Homo sapiens: one gene and its partners. The protein of the gene in region 1 purifies or fractionates together with the protein of each later gene. This does not show direct contact. Each region holds a gene or a part of one and is shown in the gene's direction. Other genes may lie near its edges.

Region 1 (5,208 bases):
CTTGTCCATCCTGAGTGGGAGTGGGGGCAGCCCCCAGAGACAGACTCAGGAGAGGGGGAGTGCAAGGATGTCCCCCAGATGCCCTGTGCTGCCCAGGGGACAGCTCACTGGCAGTGGGACGAAACCGCTGTCTGTCCAGGGCTCTCTTCCTAGAAGGTCTTAGGAACTCCCAAATGGGTGCTGGCTGGGGTTGCCCGGCCCGGTGCTCTCAAGGAGAGCTGAAGCTAGTTATTGGGTGCAGATGCTGGCTCTGACCCCTGCCCCTTCCTCCCGGGCTCAGCTTCCCCATCTGTCATGGAGTAATAACAACCCAGCCTTCTGGTCCACTGAGGAATGTGTGTGCCTGTGTGTTTGACGCTCTCAGAACAGGCCTGCAGCGCTGTGAGCCTTGGAAGGGGGCCTCACAGCTGCTGCCGCCACCTTGGAGGCCCAGGATGGGACTGAGAAGGGGAAGGGAGAGGTCAGAGCCACAGCTGTTGGGCAGGGACCTGCTGTAGGAAGAGAAGGCCAGGGAGGCGCTGGTGGTGGCCTCAGGCTATGCAGGTGATGCCCATTGTTTCCAGGGCCATCCCAGTTTGGAGGTTCCTGTTTCTAGAGGAGGTTCCCTTGTGACCCCCTCATTTCCACACCCGAGCAATGCTGAGGGCTGTGGGGCCCCCAGGGGCTTGAGTGTGGTTTATGGCACAGCAGGGACTGATCACAGTGGCACCGGGTGTCAGTGGCCAGTGGTCAGTGGCCAGGAACCCTCAGGACCCTCCTCCTTGTGTGGGTGGCATTTACCCACCCACAGGTCACGCTCAGGACCCGCATCTCATTCCGATCCTCCTTGTGTGGGTGGTACTTACCCACCCACAGGTCACGCTCAGGACCCCACATCTCATTCTGAAGGCCGGGCACAGGCGGTTGTTTTCTCTCCAACTTCGGTTTCCCCATCCCCACTCTTAGGGCACAAATGCAGGTGTAGCTTCCCCATGCCCACTCTTTAGGCACAAATGCAGGTGTAGCTTCCCCATCCCCACTCTTAGGGCACAAATGCAGGTGCAGCTTCCCCATCCCCACTCTTAGGGCACAAATGCAGGTGCAGCTTCCCCATCCCCACTCTTTAGGCACAAATGCAGGTGCAGCTTTCCCATCCCCACTCTTAGGGCACAAATGCAGGTGCAGCTTTCCCATCCCCACTCTTAGGGCACAAATGCAGGTGCAGCTTCCCCATCCCCACTCTTAGGGCACAAATGCAGGTGCAGCTTCCCCATCCCCACTCTTAGGGCACAAATGCAGGTGCAGCTTCCCCATCCCCACTCTTTAGGCACAAATGCAGGTGCAGCTTCCCCATCCCCACTCTTTAGGCACAAATGCAGGTGCAGCTTCCCCATCCCCACTCTTAGGGCACAAATGCAGGTGCAGCTTCCCCATCCCCACTCTTTAGGCACAAATGCAGGTGCAGCTTCCCCATCCCCACTCTTTAGGCACAAATGCAGGTGCAGCTTTCCCATCCCCACTCTTAGGGCACAAATGCAGGTGCAGCTTCCCCATCCCCACTCTTTAGGCACAAATGCAGGTGCAGCTTCCCCATCCCCACTCTTAGGGCACAAATGCAGGTGCAGCTTCCCCATCCCCACTCTTAGGGCACAAATGCAGGTGCAGCTTCCCCATCCCCACTCTTTAGGCACAAATGCAGGTGCAGCTTCCCCATCCCCACTCTTAGGGCACAAATGCAGGTGCAGCTTCCCCATCCCCACTCTTTAGGCACAAATGCAGGTGCAGCTTCCCCATCCCCACTCTTAGGGCACAAATGCAGGTGCAGCTTCCCCATCCCCACTCTTTAGGCACAAATGCAGGTGCTGTGAGCGCTTTAGAATCCTCTGCTGCAGGTGACTTTGCTTCAGCGAACCACAGAATGTTCACATGGTTTTATGCATTTGTTATTTCAGGGAAAATCAAGGTTAAAGATGTCTTCAGAATTTGTATTTTTGGGCTGGGCACGGTGGCTCACACCTGTAATCCCAACACTTTTGGAGGCTGAGGCAGGCGGATCACGAGGTCAGGAGATCGAGACCATCCTGGCTAACACGGTGAAACTCCGTCTGTACCAAAAATACAAAAAAATTAGCCGGATGTGGTGGCGGGCGCCTGTAGTCCCAGCTACTCGGGAGGCTGAGGCAGGAGAATGGCGTGCACCCGTGAGGCAGAGCTTGCAGTGAGCCGAGATGGTGCTGCTGCACTCCAGCCTGGGCTACAGAGCAAGACTCTGTCTCAAAAAAAAAAAAAAAAGAATTTGTGTTTTTGAAACTAAATATAGCAGGTCATTAGTTACTTATAACTGGTGTTTTATTAATAAAAGAAGAAAAAATTTAAAAACAGCCATGATTCCAGCTGCACGGAGCCTGGATGGGAAAGTGCATCCTCTGGGCTGAGCACGGTGGCTCACACCTGTCATCCGAGCGGGCTGGGCGCAGTGGCTCACACCTGTCATCCCAGCACTGCGGGAGGCCGAGGCGGGTGGATCACCTGAGGTCAGGAGTTCAAGACCAGCCTGGCCAACATGGTGAAACGCTATCTGTACTAAAAAGACAAATTTAGCAGGGCGTGGTGGTGGGTGCCTGTAATCCCAGCTACTTGGGACGCTGAGGCAGGAGAATCTCTTGAACCCGGAGGCGGAGGTTGTAGTGAGCTGAAATTGCACCACTGCCCCCCAGCCTGAGTGACAGAGCGAGACTTTGTCTCAAAAAAAAAAAAAAGAAAGAAAGTGCATCCTCTGGTAGGCCTTGGGCCGGGGGCGGGCATGAGAGAGCTGCGCTGGGATGCGCTGCCAGGGCACACTTGGTGGGTCACACACTCTTGTCAACTGTTTGGGGGCTGGAGAGTAGTAGCACTCAGCTCACACGGGCCTTCTGCAGGGAGTGGTGGGAGGGCCTGTGAGTAAGGGCTCCGGAAGGCCCATCATTGGGACCTGGTGCCGCCAGTGGGAGCAGGAGGAGCCTGTGCCTTCTCTGGCGCCAGTCATCCCAGATGCCACTCAGGGCTTGGCTGGGTTTGCCAGCTCTCCAGGTTGGCACTGGTAACGCCAAGATGGTCCTGGGAGCCCATCTCCATTCAGCCTCGAGTTCCCTGGCTTCACTGAGGGAGGAGCCGTGATAAGGTGGCTGTGGGTTCGCATTTTGGACTTTGTTATGTCAGAGTCTGCTGTGTTTTGTGTTTATGGTGGCAGCTGGATGAGGGCCAGCGACTTCAGGTGTTGACTGTCATGGTGGGCCCAACAGTATCCCTGCAGCCACAGCATCCTGCCTGCTGCCCTTTGCCTGTCCTGCAGACGCCAAGGCCCTAGAGCTTTGCTTTGATGGGATGTACCCATGTGGGTGGACACTGGAGGGAGCTGGAGGGGATAGAAGCGGGGCCTTCACTAGGGGCCAGGACAGACCCTTGCACTGTGAAAAGAGGCCTGGGAATGGAACTGTCCGATGTTCTGAAGGCACACGGGGCCCCGCCGTCTGGAGCAGGGGCACCTTGCGGGCTGCATGGCCACTCTGTGACGCTCGTTCCCCACAGACGTGGTTGAGCTTGCATTTTCTCCCCTCAGCACAGTCTCATTTGGGAAGAGGAAAGGGAAACTTGCACGCATGGGCCGGTCAGGGCACTGAGAGGCCTTTCTGCTCTGGCACTGCCTGCCAGGCGTGCACCTCAGGGGGCCCGTCCGCTCTAGCAGGCAAATGGGGCGTGTTCTCTGTAGTCAGAGGGGCTGTGAGAAGACAGGAAAGCGAGCTTAGTGGGTATCAGGCAAGGGGGTGAAATTGGGTTGTGAGATGAGAAAGCAGCGTCATTGCAGGGCTGGGGGGCCGAGACTCGGCAGGGTCGCCGAGAGCTCAGTGAGCGAGCAATGCACAGGCGGCTCCTCGCCGCAGGGGCCTCTGGGGGCCGAGGGGCTCTGGGCCTGCACCCCCTCTGTAGACACCTGGCGAGTGTCCACCCCTTGGCCCAGCTCCTTTCCTCAGTTTTCCTCGGGCGTGCTCCCAGTGCTTTGTTTGCTTGGCTGTGGGTGGTGACCCGCCCATGCTGTCTGGTTGATTTAACTGGTGTGTCTTCCAGCTACAAGAAGACTCAGGAAACTCTTTCACAGGCAGGACAGAAGACTTCAGCTGCCCTGTCCACAGTGGGCTCTGCCATCAGCAGGAAGCTTGGAGACATGAGGTGAGACGCAACCCTGACTCTGCTGCCCTGAGACCTGGCCAGGAGTGAGGTGAGGTGTTGGAGGTGCTACAGGAAGCCTGCCTGGAGATCAGGGCTCAGATGCACTGGCTCAGGGATGTGGCCATCCATCATGGCCCCGACCAGTCTGTGTGCAGACCCTTGCCTGGGAGGTTCGTCCATCCCCGTTGGCTGCTTTTCTGCCGTTGCTGTGTTCTTCAGGGAGGGTTGGCTGCCAGTGCTGTTGGGTAACTTGTGGTGCTCGGGGTTGGTGAGGGAGGAGTCTGCACCTTGAAGCTTCACTGAGTGGCAGCGACTCCAGCCCAGGGGTCAGAGTCAGGTCAGTGTGGGACGGCAGTCCTCCACCATCTCTAGGACAGGGGCTCGGCGTGGTACTTCCTCAGGCTGTTTCCCAGGTCTCAGAAAGTGCAGTCAGACGCCAGGAGGCCCTGAATGAGCCTTCTCTCCCAGAGGCTGGTGAAAGCCTCCTGGCCATCAGAGGTCCCTCAGCAAGCAGGGCTGGGGCCAAGGAGTGAGCAGGGGGCCGGCGCTTTGTGGCTGGCATGTTTGCTCTTCCTTCCCTGTTCTAGGCTCCCTGACTACAGCATGGTGATGAGGGGATTGAGCCAGAAGCCTGGGTATGATGCTTGGCTGGGCTACCTCCTGGCTGGGCACCCCAGCTGGGCCTCAGGCACGCCTTCTTTCACAGGGGTTGTAGGAGTGGATGATATAGGTTGTCACCATCAACAGCATCCTGGCCCCAACTTCTGGGTGCTGCTGCCCACCCTGCCCTGACCCCTTTCCCATTCTCAGAACTGGTCTTCTGGCTTTTGGATCTCAGGGAGTGCCTCCCTGTAGCTCTGACCCAATCCTGGCAAAGATGGGTGCAGGCTTCCTAAAGGACCGGTGTGTGGAGCACAGTGCTGACCCCACCCAGCCCTCCCCTCTTCCCCTCTTGTGGCCCCTGCAGGATTCAGAGATACGTACATCTCCTGCTGGGCTGCCTGCCTGCCTGCCTGCCTGCCT
Region 2 (4,578 bases), on another chromosome or scaffold:
GACGTCGCAGACCTGCGCAGGCTGCGGTACAAGGGCATCCGCCCGGCTCCTGGCTACCCCAGCCAGCCCGACCACACCGAGAAGCTCACCATGTGGAGACTCGCAGACATCGAGCAGTCTACAGGTAGGAGCCAGGAGGCTGCGGGTTCCTGTCTTCCTTCTTCAGTAGATACTCTTATCAGCATACTGGCACTTAGGGTTAAACATGTTTTTAAAATGGAAGGGCTTCTAATCACATTGTCCCTTATGCTGTCCTTTTTCACTCGTAGCTATTCTGCATTTTACTTCAGTATTACTGATTAGTATTCTTACATCATTATTTTTAGATGTATCAATTTAAATTATTTCCTCTTGGCCTACGCCAGATGGGAGTTTAGCTTATGTATACCATCCTGTGCCTCTCCTGCCCCAGTTTCCTGTCACAGGCATGGTGATGTCTTTAATCCCTCCCTTAGAGACCGACCTTTGTCCCTCAGTAATGTCACTTTGCTTCATGCTCTTGTCTCATTGCTTGTGGATGGTGTCCCTGGGTGCTGGTCTTGCAGAGCGCCCAGCCTTCCCTTCAGCCCTCTTTTCTCTTTACTTTTACACTGTTAGTAACATTTATATTCTTCTGTAATCATAATTCTCTGTTATGTTTTGCCTGTGGATTGATTCTAAAAGCTGAAAATGACAAGCTGGCATGTGCCTTTCTGAGACAAAGGCCCAGACACCCGGCCTCAGCGTCCTGTGCCCAGAGCTGACTTGGCTCGTGGTTCTGTGGCTGCACATTGTCATGTCAATGTCCTGGTTCTGTCATTACTGCAGAGTTCATGTAGTTGAGATGGCCCAGGCTAAGCTCACAGTTTTCAGCGGAATTAATAAAAAGCATGCCATCAAAGCTGATAAAGGCATCCAGATTTAAGTGAGAAACCATGAGCTGTGCTGAATCTGCTTCAGCAGGAACAACACTAACTCTAGGAGTCATGAGATCTGGGTTTGAGTCCTGTTTCTGCCATAAGCTAGCTGGGCGACCTCTGGCAAAGCACTCACCCTTCATGTTGCTCTGTTTCCTTGTTCATAGAATGAGTGGCTTCGAATAGATATCCTTGAGGGTCTGTTTGAGCTCTCAGATCCCAAGGAAAACTGTCTCTTCTTTCTCACAATGTTGTGGGTTCCTTCTTCACTGGAGCTCTCAGTCGTCCCTAGTATCAGTGGCCGCACAGAGCCGGTGGAGGCTGTTCAGTTGTTGTTCTCATCTCCAGGGGTAGAGCTCCTGCCTGAGAAGGTCTAGGCTTAGGAGCAAATTAGGGCACCTGTAACTGATCTGGGATGGCTGGAGGTGGGAGTGTAGAGTCTTTCCCAGGCCTGTCCCCCTGGGTTAGAGGAGATCTGCATGTCCCGAATTTGTTTCTTCACCTGGCAGGAATTTGCTAGACTTCTCTGATCACAGCTTTCATGCTGTGTCATGTGTCTACCTAGAAGGCATGAGCTCGCTTTGGTTCACTTGTTCAACAAGAGTTCATTGAGTGCCTGCTAGCTGCAGGCCCTGTGCTAGACACTGAGTCCATAAGCATTTTCCCTGTGTTGCTCCCTCTAGGCATTAGGTTAACAGAATCATTAGCAATGGCACCTGCTTCAGCAGTCTCAGGCCTCTACTTCTCCAATTTGAAGTCCAAATATTTTGCTGTGGGGAAGATTTCCAAGGATCAGGTAAGCTAGCTGTTGCATTATATGTGGCTTGCCTAGTTCAAATGAAATTCTAGAACCTCTCTCATTTTAAATGTGAATGAGAATAAAGTGAGGGGAAAGGATGAAGAAATTTACTCCAGTTAATGTCTTAATTTGATTTCAATAGAATACCTCTATTCTAGCCCTCACTTCTACATGCAAGCCACACACACGCACACACACACACACACACACACACACACACACATACAGCTTCTAAGCATCAGATGTTTACTACATGTTTTTCTGCCCAGAGAAAAAGGCAACTTGGTAGATAAATATCTATCTCCATTTAACTCTGTAGATTGCTATTAAGACAAGAAATGCAAGGTACTTAATGTTTCTTGGCAAATCTTGTGGAAACTTCTATTCCAAAAGTCTTATCATGTTGGTTTAATAAAATGCTTCTCATCTTTTGCAGGTTGAGGATTATGCATTGAGGAAGAACATATCTGTGGCTGAGGTTGAGAAATGGCTTGGACCCATTTTGGGATATGATACAGACTAACTTTTTTTTTTTTTTTGCCTTTTTTATTCTTGATGATCCTCAAGGAAATACAACCTAGGGTGCCTTAAAAATAACAACAACAAAAAACCTGTGTGCATCTGGCTGACACTTACCTGCTTCTGGTTTTCGAAGACTATTTAGTGGAACCTTGTAGAGGAGCAGGGTCTTCCTGCAGTGCCTGGAAAACAGGCGCTGTTTTTTTGGGACCTTGCGTGAAGAGCAGTGAGCAGGGTTCCTGTGGTTTCCCTGGTCCCTCTGAGATGGGGACAGACTGAAGACAGAGGTCGTTTGATTTCAAAGCAAGTCAACCTGCTTTTTTCTGTTTTTACAGTGGAATCTAGGAGGCCACTTAGTCGTCTTTTTTTCCTCTTAGAAGAAAAGCCTGAAACTGAGTTGAATAGAGAAGTGTGACCCTGTGACAAAATGATACTGTGAGAAATGGGGCATTTTAATCTAAGTGGTTATAACAGTGGATTCTGACGGGGAAGGTGTAGCTCTGTTCTCTTCGGAAGACCTCGTTTTCTAAAGGCTGGACTAAATGGCTGCAGAACTCCCTTTGGCAAAAGGCATGCGCTCACTGCTTGCTTGTCAGAAACACTGAAGCCATTTGCCCCAGTGTGGTCAAGCAGCCATGCTTTCTGGGCATTTTCGTCCTCCCATAATTTCATATTTCCGTACCCCTGAGGAAACAAAAAGGAAATGAGGAGAGAAAGTTACTGTTAAGGGTGGTTAACATTTTTTTTGTTTTGTTTTGTTTTGGTTTTTTTTTTTTTGAGACAGAGTCTGGCTCTGTCGCCCAGGCTGGAGTGCAGGGGCGCAATCTCGGCTCATAGCAAGCTCCGCCTCCTGGGTTCATGCCATTCTCCTGCCTCAGCCTCCAGAGTAGCTGGGACTACAGGTGCCCGCCACCACACCCGGCTAATTTTTTGTGTTTTTACAAAATACAAAAAAGTAGAGACAGGATTTCACTGTGTTAGCCAGGATGGTCTTGATCTCCCGACCTCGTGATCTGCCCACCTCAGCCTCCCAAAATGCTGGGATTACAGGCGTGAGCCACCGAGCCTGGCCGGTTAACATCTTTTAATTGTTTCCAGGATTGAGCAGGTTCTCAGCTGGGCTCTGATATCCCGTGCGGAGTTGGACAAGTGGGCAGCATAAAGTCACTCATTTCTTACCATTTTATTCCCCTCAATTCTCAATATATTCAGTAATGAAGAATGGTGCCACCACTCAAGCAACAAGCCTCAAACTCAACCATGTCATCTTTTTCTTGGATGATTGCAGTTATTTCAAAAATTTGCATGCAAAATATACACTCATCCTACTTCAAGATGGTGGTGGCAATAGTCAGGAGAAGGTAACATTGGAGTCCTGGTTTGATTCGAAGGATGAAGACGAAGAAGCAAGGGAGGAACAAATGAAGAACCATCTTTGTTCATGAATAGGAATATTCAAGATTATAAAGGTATCAGGTCTCCTAAAATTGATCTATGGATTTAATACCATTTTCAATGGAAATTCCAACAGATTTTATTGAATGAAACAAGCAGGTGTTTATATGGAGTAGCAAAGGACTTAAAATTACCAAATGCTTCTAAATATGAAGGAGAGGTTGGGGACACGCACCCTATGTGATACCAAGTTTTATTGTCAAGACAGTGTCATGGTGCAGAGGTAGGCATTCTGAGCAGGGGAACAAAATAAGGGCCTAGAAACTCACCCGTGCATATGTTGACCTTTGCAAAATGACCTGGTGACATGGCAAGTCAGTGGGGACAGGAAGGACCACTCCCTAAGTAATCCCAGAACAATGGCTATTCATGTGGGAAAAAAAGAAATTTTACTTTCTCTCACCTTACCTGGTGATAAGTTCCAAATATGTTAAGGGCTTTAATACAAAAAGCAAAAATTGTCAGTGTTTGGATGAAAAAAGCCTTAGGGCAGGAAAGAATCTCTTGAGACATAAAGTAGTAATCATAAAGGACAAGATGGTTAAGTCAATTCTGTTAAAACTCAAGGCTTATATTAAGCAAACACTTGAAGTGAGAAGATGATCCACAACTTGAGAAGACATTTATAATACAAATAACTGATGAAGGATTCATAATCACAAATATAGAGAATTCCTATTTAAAAAAATAGAAAAATAGTGAAGACTACACAAGAGGAAATAGGGCTTTTAAATAAATAGATGTTCTGTAGCATTGGTCAGGGAAATATGAATTAGGACCACAATGAGATTCCATTTTATATCCATAAGATTTGCAAAGGTTGGGTCTGACAGTACCAGTTGTTAGATCTGTAGGGACTTGTACAACATTGTGGATGTGTAAACAGGCACCACTGCTTTAAAAAACAAT
Region 3 (5,034 bases), on another chromosome or scaffold:
TTGCTATGCTGTTATTTTAATGCTTAATTTATGTAAAGACCATATAGATGCTATGGGAGAAGACAGTGTAGTACTTCTACTATGCATTTCACTGCAAAGCAACCCAAAGCCAATTGGCTTATTTTATATTCAGCCCATCCCTGATAGGAGTCTCATCTCCCAGTGTGGGATGTGGATGGGGAAACCCTGTTTCTACAAAAAAAAATACAAATATTAGGTGGGCATGGTGGCACGCACCTGTAGTCCCAGCTACTAGGAAGGGAGGTGGGAGGTTCACCTGAACCCAAGAGGTCTAGGCTGCAGTGAGCTGAGATCATGCCATTGTACTCCAGCCTAGGTGACAGTGAGACTCTGTCTCGAAAACATACACATAAAAAAAATAAAAATCATGAATTCATATTGATAAGTAATTTTGAAAAATTCACCTAATGAAAGTAGGGCTCCTAGAGGAGGCAAGATTTGGTTGTCTCCTGGTCAGCTTGGAGAGAGGAGTTTGTGGAAGTAAAAGGTGAGGAATGATAACCTACAGAAAACTGACTTCACAGCAACAGAAACAAAGAAAAGATGCAGGATGTCATAATTTATGTCTTGGTCCTGCCACATATGTGACCTTATGTAAATTATTTTTTTCTCTTTGAGTCTCAGATTTCCCCTTTGTAAAGGTGAAATCCCAGTTCCTCTTTTGCATCCCTCTGATGTTACTCTGAGCATCAAAGGAGTGATGACTACCATTTGTGGTACTATTATGAGGATATACACACATACTGATATAGATCCCTGTATGGATACACAAAAAACTGGTAACAGTAACTGCCTAAAGTATGTTGTTAGGAGTCAGTGAGAGACTTTTTGCTACATATAAAAGGATTTATATTGTTTGAATATTTTTCTTTTTCTTTAGAGACAGATTCTTGCTCTGTCACCAAGGCTGGAGTGCAGTGGCTAATGATGGGTCACTGCAGTCTCGAACTCCTGGCCTCAAGTATCTTCCCACCTCATCCTCCCATAGCTAGGACTACGGGCATGGGCTACTAAGCCTGGATAATTTTTTTTCTTTTTTGTAGGAACAGGGGTCTTGCTACGTTGCCAAGGCTGGTATGAATCTCCTGAACTCAAGCAATCCTCCTGCCTCTGCCTCCCAAAGTGCTGGGATTACAGGCGTCAGCCACCGTGCCTGGCCTGAATATCTTTCTTGAGGATGGAAAAAAAAAAAAAGTAAGTAAGTAGGTAATGAATTTGAAAGAGCTTTGTAAATCACAAAGTATGACACAAATATTAGGATTTTATTTTTACTATTATCCACCAGCAACAAGATATCAAACACTGGTTCTGTGATTATTTAATGGTGAAAAAGTTGAATAAATCAATTTAGTATACCCATATGTTGGAATATTGAGTCCATTTTTCTTTTAAAAATCACACTTTGGAATAATTGATGATACTGGCAAATGCTCAAGCTGAGTGGAAAAATATATAAACATTGTATAGGCGAATAATTCCAATCTTGTGCATTCCCTGTGTAAACCTACATACACAAAAAGAAAAAAGACTGAAAGGAACCATCCACAATGCTTTGATGGGAAAGACGGAGAAACAAAGTGTTAATTTTCTTAACTATAGTTTTGGTGTATTCCAGATTTTCTACAAGTTAATAAATGCCACTAAGAAAAGGGGAAACATCACAGCTACACCTTCAAACACCAGAAAAAGAATTTTTTTTTTTTTTTTTTTTTTTAGGTTGGGGTATGATTTTGATCTGGGCACTAACGGGGACACTGATTGCTTTTGCCAGTAAGTCAAGACCAGCAGATAAAAAATAATTTTTAAAAACCTCGTGAGACTGATTTGCCGCAGGACGGGAGGAGGAAGAAGCAAGCGTGGAAGGTGCTAACGGAGGAACCTAAACCTCCATCCTCTTTGCCTGGGAGGTTAAGAACTACAGGGAGAGGCGAGAGAGACTATGACTGCCCTACGGCTAGAGTAGCCGCGAAGAGAACACTTCCGGGGCGGGGCTATCTGGCCCTTTCCTTTCCGCGTGTAGAATGTGGGGCGCCTGTAAAGTTAAGGTTCACGATTCCTTGGCCACCATTTCCATCACTCTGAGACGGTACCTGAGATTGGGGGCGACCATGGCAAAAAGCAAGTTCGAGTACGTGAGGGACTTCGAGGCTGACGACACCTGCCTGGCACACTGCTGGGTGGTAGTGCGGCTGGACGGCCGGAATTTCCATCGGTGAGCGAGCTCGACTCGGGGCGTCGCGATGCGCCAGCGCTTCCGGGGAATCCAGCTTCTTCCCTTGCAAGTCCTCCCGCCCGCTCCAGTCACGGTTACCAGGGTAACGCGGTAGCCAATGAGTGCGCAGCATGGAGCATTGCCCCGCCCTGCGTGTTGGCTAGGACAGTGCCTGAACGCTGGCTGTTAGCGTAATTGAATGGGCGATGTGCTCCCGTGATGAGGATCTGGCTTGGAGTGCCCGTGTTAAGTGAACAGAGACTTGTTAGCAAGGACCTGTTGTTAAAAGTCACTCTCATGCACAATATTTAAGCTCTTAAGCCAATTGCCTAGCTATTCTGTTAGATATCTTTGAATGCTGACTGTTCAGAAGTCTGTGTAAGCCTTGCTTGTGGGCAATACTTAACGTCTGTGCTTCATTATCAGTAACAGGCCACATGGACTAGATTCAACAGAGAGTCAGAAAAAAAGAGAAGGCTGGGCGCGGGAGGCAGGAGGATCACTTAAGGCCAGGAGTTGGAGACCAAGTTTTTGTTTTTGTTTTGTTTTTTCTGTGGTTGTTGTTTGTGAAACTCCGCCACTACAAAAAAAAAAAAAAAAAAAAAAAAAAAAAGAGAGAGAGAGAGAGAAAGAAGGAAGAGAGAAAGAAAGAAAAAGAAAAAATTTAATTTGCCCGGCGCAGTGGTGCACACATGTAGTTCCAGCTACTGGGAAGGCTGAGGTGGAAGGATCGCTTGAGCCTGGGAGGTCAAGGCTGCAGTGAGCGGTGATTGGACACTGCACTCCAGCTTGGGTGACAGAGCAAGACCCTGTCTCAGAAAAAGAGGGAGGGGGAGAAAGAAATATAACAGAAAGATGGGAATTTAATCTTTGAAGAGGGCTGCATTGTTAATGATTATTATAACTAACATTTATTGAGCACTTACTAGGAGCTAGGTATGATTACTTTTATCTTCTCCCTAATCTTCAGGACAACCCAATGAGGTAAATATTCTTTTATTCCCATTTCACAGAAAGGAGAGTTGAGGCTTAGCATTTCTGTCTGGCTTTCTCAATTTCAGGGCAGGAAAAAAACTAAGTTCTTAAGAAAATGGATCAGGTTGTGGCTAGTTGAGCATTTGAGTTCACAGTGCTATTACATTATCTTCCTCCAAACAGCCTCTGTTATCTAGCAACAGAGCGTGTTGTTAATGACAGGCTTCCATCCATGCTTTCTTCCCTTTTTCCCCTGTGAAGGTTTGCTGAGAAGCACAACTTTGCAAAACCCAATGACAGCCGTGCTCTCCAGCTGATGACCAAATGTGCGCAGACTGTGATGGAAGAACTAGAGGATATTGTGATCGCGTATGGACAGAGTGATGAGTACAGCTTTGTGTTCAAGCGGAAAACCAATTGGTTTAAAAGAAGAGCCAGGTAATTCCATGACCTAACTCCTTTCTTCAGAATATTTCCTCCCAGCATCTGGTTTTCTGTTTATCTTAATCGCAGACTTACAGGCTACAGATGATGTCTGCAGTATTTGTAACTGCAGAGTACATGTATATTTCCTGTTTAGATTGTTGTACTTCCATCTGATAGCCGAGCATTCTGTGTGCCTCTTTTATCTGATTCTTTCCCCACATGCCCCATAAGATTGGTTTCTAGACTGACCTGGCATTGAACATTAAGATTAGAAACAGAGACTATAAGAATGTAATATTAACAATTCATAGGTTGGCTTTAGCCAGTGATAGTCTCTACGTGCATTGCATTACACTGTTCCTCAAGACAGATCTCATTATAAAATACACAAATCTGATATTTGATTTGGCAGTATTTTGAAACGCTGTATGGGAAACAAATCATATAATGAATTGGTTTTTTCTTTCTTTCTTTTTTTAATAGAGGTGGGGTCTCTCTGTGTTGCCCAGGCTGGTCTCAAACTCCTGGCCTCAAGCAGTTCTCCTGTCTTGGCCTCTCGAAGTGCTAGGATTACAGACATGAGCCACCACGCCCAGCCTGAATTGGCATTTTTTTTACAACAATGGTTTCTCTCCTTTCATGACTGTAAACACAAACAGATCAGGCGTGGTGGCTCACGCCTGTAATCCCAACACTTTGAGAGGGTAAGGGAGAGGATTACTTGAGCCCAGAGGTTTGAGACCAGCCTGGGCAAGATGGTGAGACCTCATCTCTACAAAAAATTTAAAAATTAGCCGGGCTCAGTGGCATGTGCCTATAGTCACAGCTACTAAGGAGGTTGAGGCAGGAGGATCCATTGAGCCAAGGAATTTGAGGCAGCAGTGAGCTATGATTGTGCCAATCCACCCCAGCCTGAGGGACAGAGAGATTCCATCTTTTAAAAAATAAAATAAAATTTAAAAATACCCCTTGAATCATAAATTCGTATCACATCCTGTAGGGAAAGGTTTAGTATCAGTAGGTTACTTAATAGAACTGGAAGGAGAGGCAGGCTGCATTTAAAATACATAACTGGCCAGGTGTGATGACTCACGCCTGTAATCCCAGCACTTTGGGAGGCTGAGGCAGGCAGATGACTTGAGGTCAGAAGTTTGAGACTAGCCTGGCCAACATGGTGAAACCCCATCTCTACTGAAAATACAAAAATTAGCTGGGCGTAGTGGCCTGCACCTGTAATCCCAGCTACTCGGGAGTCTGAGGCAGGAGAATCACTTGAACCCAGGAGGCAGAAGTTGCAGTGAGCCAAGATGGTGCCATTGCACTCCAGCCCAGGCAACAGAGCAAGACTCTGTCCTAAAAAAAGAAAAAAAAATACAGAACCAAGGTATTAAAATAGTGTT
Region 4 (5,017 bases), on another chromosome or scaffold:
TAACTATAGGCCAGGCGCTAGCTCACGCCTGTAATCCTAGCACTTTGGGAGGCCGAAGTGGGTGGATTGCCTGAGCTCAGGAGTTCGAGACCAGCCTGGGCGAAATGGCGAAACGCCCGTCTCTACTAAAAATACAAAAAATGGGTGTGGTGGCGCGCGCCTGTAGTCCCAGCTACTCTGGAGGCTGAGGCAGGGAGAATTGCTTGAACCTAGGAGGCGGAGGTTGCAGTGAGCCGAGATCCCGCCACTGCACTCCAGCCTGGGCGACAGGCTCTTCCCATCCCCCTGTCTCAAAAATAAACAAAAATAAAATAAGGTAACTATAGATTGGGATCATAGATGATTTCACGGTCTCCCTTAACTGTCTACCGCTGGGTGAGTTGCAATAGTCAGCCCTTTGCCATTCTCAAGAGTCCCAATATACCTTCAACACCTCCCCCGCCTTAGTTAATGAAAGAAATTCCACCTCCCATCACCAAACCTACAAACACAGCTACATGTCCACCTAAGCTTTCCCTTAGGAAGGAAGGAGTGTCTAAGGCCTCCTGTAGAGAACTCAATCTCTACTTGAGCTCAGATCCTACCTCTTCAGGAACCGTCCTCTGCTGTAACCTCTCTTCTCCTGGCTCTTTCCTACCAATCTTCAAATATGATAAAAATAAGTCTCTGAATGTCATGTGCCCCTCCAGATACCAATTGCTCCTTCACAGTGAAGTCACTGGATTATTCTCTACAATTATCTCCATTTCCTTCTCTCCACTAAAACTGCTGTAGCCCGGGTCACCACCACCACCCTGATTTCTAAATCTTGTGGCCACTTCTCAGTCGTTACATGTGACATGTTCTCTCCAGAGTGTTCATCACTGTTGATGTTCCCTCTTGAAGCGCCCTTCTTTAGCTGCCGTTACACCGTACTCCTACCTGGTCAGTGTCCTTTGGTGACTTCTCTACCTGCCCTTGCTGTTCTAACCTGGGCCCTCGTGCTCTTTACACACTCTCTCATCCATTTCCATAGCTTCAATTGCCATCTGCTTTCAGAAGATTCCAGAATCTCTATCACCAGCCTTGATTTCGCAAACTCCAGTCACATATATTCAGTTACCCCTTTAACATTTGTATTTGGATGTCCTGTGGGCATCTCAAACTCATTATGTCCAAAGCTGAACTCCTCACCTCGGCCTCCCAAACCTGTTCCTTGGGCCCCAAACCTGGGCATTTCCTTGACTTTTCCCCCTTATTCGCACATGCAGTCATTCCCAAGTTCTGATCATTTCAGTTCCTGAAGATCCTTGAAATGATCAGCGCTCCACCCTCCCTGCGGTTACTCTAGTTCAGGCCACCCTCTCCCATTTAGGGGGCGGATCTCCCTGTCTCTGGCTTTTCCTCTGTCGGCCACAGTGCAGCCGGTGTCTTTCTAAAACCCAGCAAATTGGGCTGCTAATAATCCCTTGCTTGAAAGCCTTCAGTGACTCCATGATCTTGCCTCTGCTGATTTGTTTCATGTCTCTCCATATCACATGTCGCAGTGTATTTCCTCTTCTTTTACATTGTGGGATCCGCTGCGCCTGGCACAAGGTAGGTGCGCCATCGATACGTGGAAGATTCACAAGGGCCAAGCCGCCACGAGGCTCTATATCGACTTGATGGCCACAGGCAGCGCGTGGGACTCTGCATCTGCTGCTTGGCTGTGGGAGCGAGAAGACACCTGGCCCTGTGCACTCCTTGCCGCGCTCTCCAATTCTGAGAAGTGACAATACCTTTCTTTCCCCGATTAGGAAAGAGGTGACACACCTTCCTATCAGCTGAGCAGGGTGGGCCAAGACACGGTGAGGCCTCAGCTCCGCAGCTCCACTTCCTGGGGCTCGGCCCGTTCCAGAACAAAAGAGACTCGCGCATGTTCTGCGGCCACGAGACTCGCTCCCGCCGGCCTTAAGGTGTCGCCCTCTGGCCAGAGCGGATGCGCCGGGCGGTGGGGCCGCTCCTGCCGGCTACCTGCGCAAGCGCAGAGGGCTCTTCCGGCGCCTTCCCAGGCGGGGATGCTGCGGCTCCGCAGCGGGCTGAGGCACCTTCGGGCAACACCCAATACTCGGGGCTCCGCTCGGCTTCTTTGCGCCGAGATGCCTAAGAAGGCTGGTGCGACGACCAAGGCCAGTAGCAGGTCCCGTGGCGGCAGAGGGGTGGGCCTCAGGGGTACTTGTTGAAGAGCGCGGGAGAAGCGGGGCCCGGGAGTGAGTGGAGGCACTGCCAGCGGCTTGCCGTCTCTCAGTTCCGGGGCTCAGGACAGCCGCCGCCACCCCCAGAGCTGCGGCCTGCTGCCGTCGCCCCGCCTCAGTAGGCTGCGCTGCCGTCCACCTGGTGATTTCTGAGCGCTGGGCCCGGCGGCAGCCGAGCTCTCCTTGGGCTGCGTGTGCTGACCTTTGGCCTCCTACCCGCACTCCCAGTCCAGCAATTCATGTTCCCGCAGCGGCATGACCTGCGTTTCCCCAGGAGGCTGTATTCTGCTTTCTCCTCCCTTGCTTTGGCTGATCGCACCCCTTCTGTCAAGAATACAGCACTCCCATTTCCACCATCTTTGTTTGGCCAACCCCAGTCCGTTTCTCAGACTCAGCTCAAGCACTGCCTCCTGCTGGCAGCATTCTCCAGTGCCCCAATGCTGATTTGCCTGTGGGGTAATGTTCTGTGCCTATCTCATCGGTGCACTTAGCACAGTGTATTATAATTTTGTATGTTCTTTCTCCCTCGCAGCAGTCCGAGCTCCTTGAGAGCAAGGACCATGTACCTTTTCATCTTTACATATCCATTGCCTACATATTTGTTGAACGAAAGTTCCTAGCACAGCCCCTGTCCCATAACAGGCCTTTAAATATCAAGCACTATTTTTTTTTCCTCCCTTTCCCGCAACATGCAGACATACACACTTTCACCAACATTTATTAGCTCCGACTGCATGAGATACAATGATGAATAATAAATGATCCCTGCCCCCAAGGAATTGGAAATACAAAGCAGAGGGAGGAGCAAGCATTAAGGTTTAGAAGCCAGAGTTAGGTTTTCTTGCAAGGGGGGAAAAAACACTGTTGGGTTGATGGGAACCCTTCGTGGGAAAATTGAGTAGAGCCTTGAAGGTTGTGGGAAAAGCTTTCTAGGTGGCCAGAAGTCCCTGGACACCACTGATGAGCCTAGTTTGTCTGTTAAGGGTGAAAGGGGGTAGTGGAAGAATCAAATTAAATGTGTGGGAAAATATTTTGTAACCTGTAAAGTTGTGTGGTTGTCATTTTAGGGTAAAAGCCAGAGCAAGGAACCAGAGAGACCACTTCCTCCCTTAGGTCCTGTGGCAGTTGATCCTAAAGGATGCGTCACCATAGCCATCCATGCAAAACCTGGCTCCAAACAAAATGCTGTAACAGGTATACCTGGACACTGGGGTGGGATTCAAGTGTGAATCAGGTGTCTCCTACAGCCCTCCTTTGCTTTGGTTAGCTGAAAGCTTATTCTATGACAGTTGATTTTTCACATCTGCAGTTAGAGGCTTCTCCATTTTAAAATTCTAGATTCTAATGTAAAGGTGTCTTAAAGTGAATATATCTTTAAATCATGCCAAGTTACACGAAAACCATTGTATATTTTCCTCTTTAAAAATACAGTATTTTAGAAAGGACAGTTATGGAAACTTGTGTGTAGTCTGGATTATTCTTAGTTTGTCCTGTTCCAAAACTGGAGACATTGGCCAGAGAAAGAAGAGACATTTTAGTGTAGTTTAATGATCACTGGCCTAAGGAGAGGGAGAAAACTTGAGATCTGAGACCCGTGATCAGTTCCTGTGCGAATTTGTTTTAAATCAAAACAGTATAAAACATTCATGGGTCCAGTTTTTTCATCTGTCAGATGAGATCGTTGGACTAAGTTAGAGGCTTTCAGGCTATTCTCTGGAGTGCTGGAGGTGCCTCAGGAATCAGCTTTGGGCAAGGAGGAGGCCAGGCAGACAGGGCTCCTGACTAGCTCTGTTTACATTTGTTTTACATATTGGGATTCTGGAGAAAATTGGGGGAAGGGATTCTAAAGGAAAAAAAGTTCAAAAACCATTGCTCTAAATTCTTTTGAAGGTCTTTTTCACCTCTAAAGCTCTGTATTTCAAACCATTTTTAGATTTTGAAAGGAAAACCACAACATTGACGTGCTAGACCTGGTTTATGCTGATGACCAAGTTAACTTAGCCATACCCTCCTTGGCCAGCATTTTCTAAGTAGTGGGTGTGGACACTGTCTACGTTGGAGTATTATGTTTCATTAGATCTAAAATGGGAGGCTGGATGCCATGGCTCATTTGTAAAATGGAGATAATAATGGTACTAATATCTTCATAAAGTTATTATAAGGATTAAAGAAGTTAGTATTTGTAAAGCCTTTAACACATTTGTGTGTGCTTAAAATTGGTGTATAGTAAGTGCTCTGTAAATATTTGTTAAGTAAACATTATTAAATTTTAAAAACACTCAAGATATGTGTCACATAAGAGGTGAACCTAGTCCGGGGCTCTCATTTTCCTGTTGAGGAAACCCTGCACAACCTTGTACAATCTAGTAAGCTGCCCTGTCCATACACTTCTTCAGTGACATTGATGAGGCTGAAGGCCATCTATGACTCCCTGCCTGGGGCTCTTCACATACCAAGGGCAATTTCCAGTTGCCTAAATCCAGGATATTCCCCAGGGCTCTGTAAGCCCATCTTGGTCGGCAAGATTGGGTCAATAACTTTTCTTCTCTGGATTTATTTCCTGTAATGGTAGGGCCATTTTTATCATGTTCATGTTCCTTAAATGTGATTAGTTTAATCATTCATTTCTTCATTCAACAGTTTTTAATTGAAAATCTGTGTGCCAGGCAAATGCAAAAACTCTTTTACAAAATGTCCTTGCTTCATGAAGAAAAAGAACTCCTTAAGGATAAAGTCCACACTATTTTCATTCCAGATTTGACAGCAGAGGCTGTAAATGTAGCTATTGCAGCACCTCCATCAGA

Evidence for each region. Proteins that work in one complex are often made in the same cells at the same time.
Region 2: the proteins of TPD52L2 (region 1) and MTR fractionate together in Homo sapiens (co-fractionation; one large-scale study listed by BioGRID). This does not show direct contact.
Region 3: the proteins of TPD52L2 (region 1) and THG1L fractionate together in Homo sapiens (co-fractionation; one large-scale study listed by BioGRID). This does not show direct contact.
Region 4: the proteins of TPD52L2 (region 1) and C15orf40 fractionate together in Homo sapiens (co-fractionation; one large-scale study listed by BioGRID). This does not show direct contact.

The regions. Positions count from the first base shown.
Region 1 is NC_000020.11:63,878,636-63,883,843, forward strand, and holds part of TPD52L2 (tumor protein D54), read left to right. Parts: intron 1-4,083; coding exon 4,084-4,185; intron 4,186-5,208.
Region 2 is NC_000001.11:236,895,427-236,900,004, forward strand, and holds part of MTR (methionine synthase), read left to right. Parts: coding exon 1-124; intron 125-1,579; coding exon 1,580-1,692; intron 1,693-2,131; coding exon 2,132-2,218; 3' UTR 2,219-4,578. UniProt on the Homo sapiens protein: Catalyzes the transfer of a methyl group from methylcob(III)alamin (MeCbl) to homocysteine, yielding enzyme-bound cob(I)alamin and methionine in the cytosol. MeCbl is an active form of cobalamin (vitamin B12) used as a cofactor for methionine biosynthesis.
Region 3 is NC_000005.10:157,729,399-157,734,432, forward strand, and holds the start of THG1L (probable tRNA(His) guanylyltransferase), read left to right. Parts: upstream 1-2,021; 5' UTR 2,022-2,042; coding exon 2,043-2,233; intron 2,234-2,400; exon of another isoform or gene 2,401-2,611; intron 2,612-3,031; exon of another isoform or gene 3,032-3,212; coding exon of another isoform or gene 3,213-3,217; intron 3,218-3,469; coding exon 3,470-3,646; intron 3,647-5,034. UniProt on the Homo sapiens protein: Adds a GMP to the 5'-end of tRNA(His) after transcription and RNase P cleavage. This step is essential for proper recognition of the tRNA and for the fidelity of protein synthesis.
Region 4 is NC_000015.10:83,008,627-83,013,643, reverse strand, and holds the start of C15orf40 (UPF0235 protein C15orf40), read left to right. Parts: upstream 1-2,004; 5' UTR 2,005-2,036; coding exon 2,037-2,147; exon of another isoform or gene 2,148-2,158; intron 2,159-3,280; coding exon 3,281-3,407; intron 3,408-4,968; coding exon 4,969-5,017.